Linked DNA regions of Homo sapiens. The protein of the gene in region 1 purifies or fractionates together with the protein of each later gene. This does not show direct contact. Each region holds a gene or a part of one and is shown on either strand. Other genes may lie near its edges. The genes, in order: DCDC1 and FAT3.

Region 1 (3,832 bases):
GAGGAAAGGGGGAGGATAGAGGTAAATCAGGCAATAATGATGTATGAAGAAGAGGCAGGTAGACACAGAAGGAGATAGGAGGTGCTGAGTCAAAAAGCATGGAGTCTACTAGAATTAAGTCACTAGTGTATCCTTGACAGCCATGAATGGCCTTCCAATTTTTGTGCCCTGCAGGAGTGGTTTTATTTACTTTCATAACTTTCTATGTATCTTGATAATAAGCCTTATCACTTGAAGCCTAAGTGTGCCTCTCTGTTTCTGGAAAGCTGAAGGAACCTAACACCCTTCATTCCAGCACCAGTTTAGCAAACTGACTATGTGGGTTTAATTCCCATGTGGGACAAGTTGGCTTTGCAAGGGTATGTAATCATCCTTTCCAACACCTAACAAGCTATGAAACACCTATCAATTGTTATAAGAAAGATGAGTTTGAGAGTGTGTAAGAACTACTGAGGCTGGGCGCGGTGTAATCCCAGCACTTTGAGAGGCCAAGGTGGGAGGATCATGAAGTCAGGAGATTGAGACCATCCTGGCTAACATGGTGAAACACCGTCTCTACTAAAAATACAAAAAATTCAGCTGGGCGTGGTTGCATGCGCCTGTAGTCTCAGCTACTCAGGAAGCTGAGGCAGAAGAATCGCTTGAACCTGGGAGGCAGATGTTGCAGTGAGCTGAGATTGCGCCACTGCACTCCAGCCTGGGCAACAGAGCAATACTCCATCTCAAAAAAAAAAAAAAAAAAAAAAAAAAAATCAAGAATTACTGAAAACCTGTCCTCAATGTTGTAAAACATATCAAAGCTGAAGACTATTCATAGTGGACCAATAATATTAACTCTTTAACATAAAAAACTACCCCTTCTCCCACTTTCAGATATAAATTACTAGAGAAAACCAAGTAATAAATAAACAAATATATAGTTGAACCATATATTTAAATTTAATTATTTTTACCATTCACTGGGTAAATCTATAATCTCTTGTCCTAACCCTATCAGGATCATGTGGAGTTGGGAAGAGTTTGCATTCCCAAAAGAATGCAAGTGCTGTTACCAGAAGATGGGGAAGATGTGTGTGACAAACAAAAATGATAGACAGCCCATGCATAACTAGGTAGAAGAGGGCTATATCAATATAGTTGATAAAATATTATATTCCAGTAAAATCCATACAGAGCATAGAGCAACATGAATAATGGTTATAAAACAGTATTTAGTCAGAAGGCAATAGAATTGAGGATATAACATGATTAAAACTTCAGAATATGAAAAAGTAAAAACCTTTTGCCTTGTGGTGGTAGAATAATGGATTGTTATGTTAAAAATCATTAGTATATTTATAAGAATATTTCATAATGAAAAAAATACATTCATTAAAAAAGACACCTTATTCTACTTTTAAGTAGGGAATTCCATTTTTTTAAAAAAATATGGGAATCTGCTCTTCAAGTAACTATTTATTGGAAACTTGGAACTGTTTATGAAATCTGTGATTCTTTCCCCTGGCTGTTTACTGGTCTTCCCCCAGGTTGAAGAGCTTGGTAACCGTGTGAAGCTCCATTGCTATTGCTGCAGAAACACTGCCAGTTTGAAATGACTGCTGCCACATGCCGTCACTCACCACCGTTATCAAAATCTGAGTGGCTTAGGTGGTCTGCAGGGAGGTCCCACTTTTGCCAGAGCTAGTCCAAAGACCCTTTCAAGGCGTTGTTTGCCACAGTTTTGAGCCTGGTTATATCCAATGTGTAGGGAAGGCTGCTCCTCTCCCCAGTACTGTACTCAGTCTAGGGCAGACTTGGATAGAAACATGTGATGATAACAACAACAGCAGAATACAACTGCTTGGATTCCAGAGGTGTAGTTCCCCTGGGTCCACTGTGTGAGCTCACACACATACACACACACACACACACACACACAAACATCTATTTTCCCTCTGATGTGTGACTACCATTCATTTTTTCAGAGGAAATAATTGACCATTTTACTCGTTTGTGACCATAAAGAGGGCAGGCTGGAAGAAATAATTGTGATTATAATGACATTTGTGGATGTGAAAGATTTGGAGGAGGGGCAATCCCTGCTGAGCTTTCAACACTGAACATATGTTAATTTATAATTGGGGGTGTGTTTGGGGGGGTTATATTATGCAATAACTATTGAGGAATGAGCAAATTGGAAAGAAGCAGATTTGGTTTGTGCAAAGATACTTCCGATTATGGTAATACATGGAACCTGACTATCCTCTATGTGTGATCACCACACAGCTCAATATTTGCAAATATATTAAAACTTATTTTATTTTATCATACCGGTATATTCTATACCTATTCATCTTCCCAACTTGGTGTCTATATAGATTAATATATTCTTCCAGGTCATGTGGTTCCCTGTTCACACATCATAGTTCATCCACATACTACTCTTCCAGCCTAAATACCAGTAGGGTGACCAACTGACCCAGTTTATCTGAGACTGAGGGAGTTCCTGGAATGTGTGACCCTCAGTGCCAAAACCAGGATAGTCCTGAACAGAGATGAGTTAGGCTAATCTCAGGTCTGCTGTGAAGCCTTTACCGACTTTATTCCCACCCATTCTAAAATGGCCTTCAATGAATTATTTTCATCTTTAAGGCTAATACACACTCAGTTTCAGTTTATTTAACATATATTCTCTATTGGGGGATTGTTTGCAAGTTTCTTGAGGGTAGGACCCACATATTTTTAACAGCAGAGTGCTAAGTAAGTATTAGAAAATAAAGTGGATCTAAGAATTTAAAAGTTATACTTACATTGTTTTAAACATTATGCAAGCTTCCTTTTGGTTGAATTAAGTAAAGCAATGAAGCTTAATGGTTATGAATGTGGATTTTATTTCAGGACAGGCTTGGGTTCAAATTCCCATCCTGTCAGTTATTGATTATGTGACAGTGGGCAAGTTAATTAACCTCACTGATTCTCAATTTCTTAAATCTGTAAAATGGGAATAAAAATAATAACCACTTCCCAGGAATATTGTAGGCATTAAACAAAATAATGGCTAAGTGTGTAGTATTTTGTGTAGCACATAGCACACAACTCGTTATTATATGGTATTTGTTAATAAATGATTACAAATCAATTAATTGTATTCTTCCATGCATTGTTTCTTCCAGAGAGTTTATGTCATCCCAGGCAAAAGCAGTTATTAAAACTACTGATGATTATTTGCAGTCTCAGTTTGGCCCCAACAGACTCGTGCATTCAGCAGCAGTATCAGAAGGGTCAGGACTTCAAGATTGCTCCACACATCAAACAGCATCAGATCACAGCCATGATGAAATATCAGACCTAGATAGCTACAAATCAAACAGTAAAAACAATTCTTGTTCTATATCAGCATCCAAGAGAAACAGACCTGTCAGTGCTCCAGTGGGTCAACTGAGGTAATCAAAGCTGTTCTCTGTTCTTTTTAACCTATTGTTGAAGTTCTTTCCTTTGAGCAGAGTTTATAATGTTTCAATTGACTATCTCAGACATTAAAATGTAACACATCTCTCGGGTTTTGTTTTTGTTTTTGTTTTTTTCTTTGAAAGCACCAGAGTAGAATGTTGTTAATTACACTGTGGGAAATATGAGATACACTTCAACCCGGGCAATCAGAAACTCTGAAAAGAATATTTGAAGCAGAATCAGGCTAGGATCATGAAATATCTTTGCTCACACGAACTTATTTAAAAATAAAAATGCTTTCTTTTGATATTTAACCAATAGTTTGAAACAGAATTGAATTGAATGAAATTATTATAAAACAATTTTGTAAATATGTTTTCACATCAAATTGTTATCATAAACT
Region 2 (3,832 bases), about 61 Mb from region 1:
ACAAGACAGAACAGTTATTTCCTTAAAACATCTTTCATAAAGAAAACCCAAACTTCCAGAAAACCATGGGAACAATTGATATCGCAAAAAAAATGACCTTTGATTGTATGTAAGAAACTATTGAGGATTACAATGTTCACAATAAATCTCAAATGACCAGCAGGGCTCTTCACAGACAGACAGACAAACCCACACTGGTCCGCACTGGTCCTAGAGGAGCAAGTTTCTTCCCAGTTGAGGGTGGGAGACAGGCAGATCCCAGATGCTTCAGCACTTTGAAGCAAATGACAAATGGCTGTGTAAAGTATTATGTTTTATTTAACTTTTCTCACACACATCAGATAAGCAAGATTTCACTCTGTTTATTGGTGGGCTATAAATTTCCTGTCTCCTGCCTGTCCTCTAAAGTAACTACGGAAGCTTTTTATTTTGGCCTGAAGGACTGAGGCAGAATTTGAGTGCAGAGCTTCAGGTCTTATATCTAGTTTGAGTTTTGTGTTTGGTGTCAATGGTGAGTCTGAGGCAGGATTGTACAAGAGAGACTGGGACTGAGTTGAGTTCGGGTGAGGGCATATGGATCCCAAGATGCATATGAATAGAGAGTTTAAAATATTTTTTTTAGATTTACCTCTCCTCTCAATCATTCAACAAATATTAAGCAACTTCTTTGTAGCAGATGCTGTGTTGTGTACTAGATAAGGAATGATAAGAAAAGCACAGCTTTTATTCAATTGCCAAAAATCTACAAGAGGCCATAGATTCCAAAAAACAAACAGAGGCCAATTTTTCAGGATTCAAGTGTAGCAGGAAAGAATAAGCAGGAAGTGGATTCCAAGAGAATGGGTCAGTGTGTCAAAGAGGGAAAGAGGAGAAGGGCCCACTTTGGACCTGATGTATCAGCACACCATTCTGGAAGCGTGTCACAAGCAGATCAGCGGCCATGGGATAGCAGGATTATGAATTTCTACTTGAGGCCAGGCACAGTGGCTCGTGCCTGTAATCCCAGCATTTTTGGAGGCCAAGGCAGGTGGATCACTTGAGGTCAGAAGTCTGAGACCAGCCTGACCAACGTGGCAAAACCCCGTCTCTACAAACATGAAAATTAGCCAGGTGTAGTGGTGCCTGCCTGCAGTCCCAGCTACTCTGGAGGCTGAGGCAGGAGAATCACCTGAACCCAGGAGACAGAGGTTGCAGTGAGCCAAGATTGCACCACTGCACTCCAGCCTGGATGACAGAGCGAGACTCCATCTCAAAAAAAAACAAAAAATTATATTTGAGGTCAAAAGCTGGCTCCCTGCCATCCCCACCATAATCTATCTTTCTGGGCATGAAGAAATCTGCCGGGTGTGGAGTGAGGGAGGACTTACCTAGAAACTCTGCAGTCGGGCACCATAATCAGTGAACACCGAGATCCCTGGCTCCAGTAGCATTCATCAGTCAGGGTTGCATGTTGGTGCCATCACTGGAAGGTGACCATTGCTTAGGTGAAGTGATTTCCCCTTATAAAGTTCTGTGGATCACCTGTTGGATTCACACTCAATTCTATGACACTATTCATTGCAAGCTTGAACGTTTACTCATAAGATCATTGAACTTTTTATTATTGTCATCACAAAATGGCCATGTTTAGGTGGCAAAGTAATAAATCATGCCGACATCAAAGACAACATTGTTTAATATTCACATTTGGGGGGGCTGGAATCAAAATGACCTCTTTATTAGATATACTTTGTCTTTTAAAATAAGCAAGTATCTTCTTGAAATAGATGTTACATGAACATGACCATTTTGTGTTCAGACATGGAAAACTTTATATAATTAGCATGTAGGAAGAGGTATGTAGACACATCTCATAACTGCCCTGAAAATCCTGGTCCCTATTTTAATGATTTTAACATTTAAATTATATACCTATCATACTACAATACTCAGAAAGAAAAGTCCAGATAGAGTTGAATAACCAAGATCTTTAACTTTTGATTGGAAAGGATCTCAACACAGAAGTATATGTGTTCTTTGAGAAGTATGAGAAAGCCTGATAAGAGAAGCAAAAAGCAACTTGGTGAGGGATGCAACTTCACACTACCCACTGCCTTTCAGCTCTGTCACCACCTACCTTCTTTACATACTCCACATTGTGTCTTCCCCATTTTTTATTCCTCTGTTATTTCTCTCATTCTCAACAATCCCAGATTTCGAACCACAACATGTTTCTGAAGCAGAGCTGTAAACTACTACAGTGTCATGGCCAGAGCCCTTCCCCTGCCAGCTCTATCAAAGTGGGGTGCCCAGGTTTCAGTTTCACAAGGATTATGTCTCAGGTTCTTGGTTGCAGTGCTGGTTCAGATTCCCAACAGTTTCTTGGTACACTAGAAACACCTCAAATGCTTGGTGAATAGAATGGTTACAGATTGAGCAACTGCCCTATAACTTTTTATGTTTACTTTTATGTCTAGATGTGTGCATGTGTGTGTTCAGAAGCATGAGAGAGGGGTAGAGCATGAGTGGAGAATAGAAGAGAAGTCAGGAAAATTCATCACACTTACAAGGCAAATAATGACTTGCCAAGAATTCTCCACACCTGACTGAACAAACCCCTTCACCAAAGTAGTGTTTTGGATAAAGTCATTTTTGATAGGGTGAAATAATACCAATTCCATGTAGCGAAGTTTGCTTTTGGGATAATCAGAAAACAACTGACTACTTTATAATGCTCTGAAACTATTCCCACAACCCTCTTTCTTTAAACCTAGAACAGAAAATATGACACTGCTACCTAAACCAGTGGCATTCATATGTGGGCTTCCCAATCTATCTGTCTTCTCACAAGGCTGGAAATAAGGAAGTCCTATACATTCTTAGCAGAAAGATCTCTCCTTCGGGCTCTCTTATTTCCCAACTTGAATGCACATAAGACTGTGTCATTGTCATTGTGTTTTTAACCTGGATCTAGAAGTTACTGATCTGAAATTTACTATAATACTGGGAAACTCATTTTGGTTCCTTTTCAGTACCCCTGAAAGAGAAGCCTCTCATTTTATTTCAGAATGACACAGATGAGTACTATAATTGCTTTCTACTTGCCACATTGCAGTAAGGTACCTATAGATAAAGAGTTAATCAAAAAGATTTCAGTGACCCACATGTAACTCATTTCACCATTGATTTCTGTATTTTAGGGAACACTGGGAACATGTTTAAGATCGAACCGGTCCTAGGCATCATCACCATTTGCAAAGAACCAGACATGACGACGATGGGTCAGTTTGTCCTATCCATCAAAGTCACAGATCAGGGATCCCCGCCAATGTCTGCTACTGCAATTGTGCGCATTTCCGTCACCATGTCTGACAATTCTCACCCCAAGTTCATTCACAAAGACTACCAAGCAGAAGTAAATGAAAATGTTGACATTGGAACATCAGTCATTCTAATCTCTGCCATCAGTCAATCTACCCTCATTTATGAAGTCAAAGATGGAGACATTAATGGGATCTTTACCATAAATCCATATTCTGGAGTCATCACCACTCAGAAGGCCCTGGATTATGAGCGCACATCCTCTTATCAACTCATCATTCAGGCCACCAATATGGCAGGAATGGCTTCCAATGCTACAGTCAATATTCAGATTGTTGATGAAAATGATAATGCCCCAGTTTTTCTCTTTTCTCAATACTCAGGCAGCCTAAGTGAGGCTGCCCCAATTAATAGCATTGTCAGGAGCTTGGATAACAGCCCACTGGTGATTCGAGCCACAGATGCTGACAGCAACCGGAATGCTCTGCTTGTGTATCAGATTGTGGAGTCAACAGCAAAAAAGTTTTTCACG

What was found.
Region 2: the proteins of DCDC1 (region 1) and FAT3 purify together in Homo sapiens (affinity purification with mass spectrometry; one large-scale study listed by BioGRID and IntAct). This does not show direct contact.

Annotation. Positions count from the first base shown.
Region 1 is NC_000011.10:31,307,229-31,311,060, reverse strand, and holds part of DCDC1 (doublecortin domain-containing protein 1), read left to right. Parts: intron 1-3,152; coding exon 3,153-3,422; intron 3,423-3,832. UniProt on the Homo sapiens protein: Microtubule-binding protein which plays an important role in mediating dynein-dependent transport of RAB8A-positive vesicles to the midbody during cytokinesis.
Region 2 is NC_000011.10:92,794,657-92,798,488, forward strand, and holds part of FAT3 (protocadherin Fat 3 isoform 1 precursor), read left to right. Parts: intron 1-3,179; coding exon 3,180-3,832.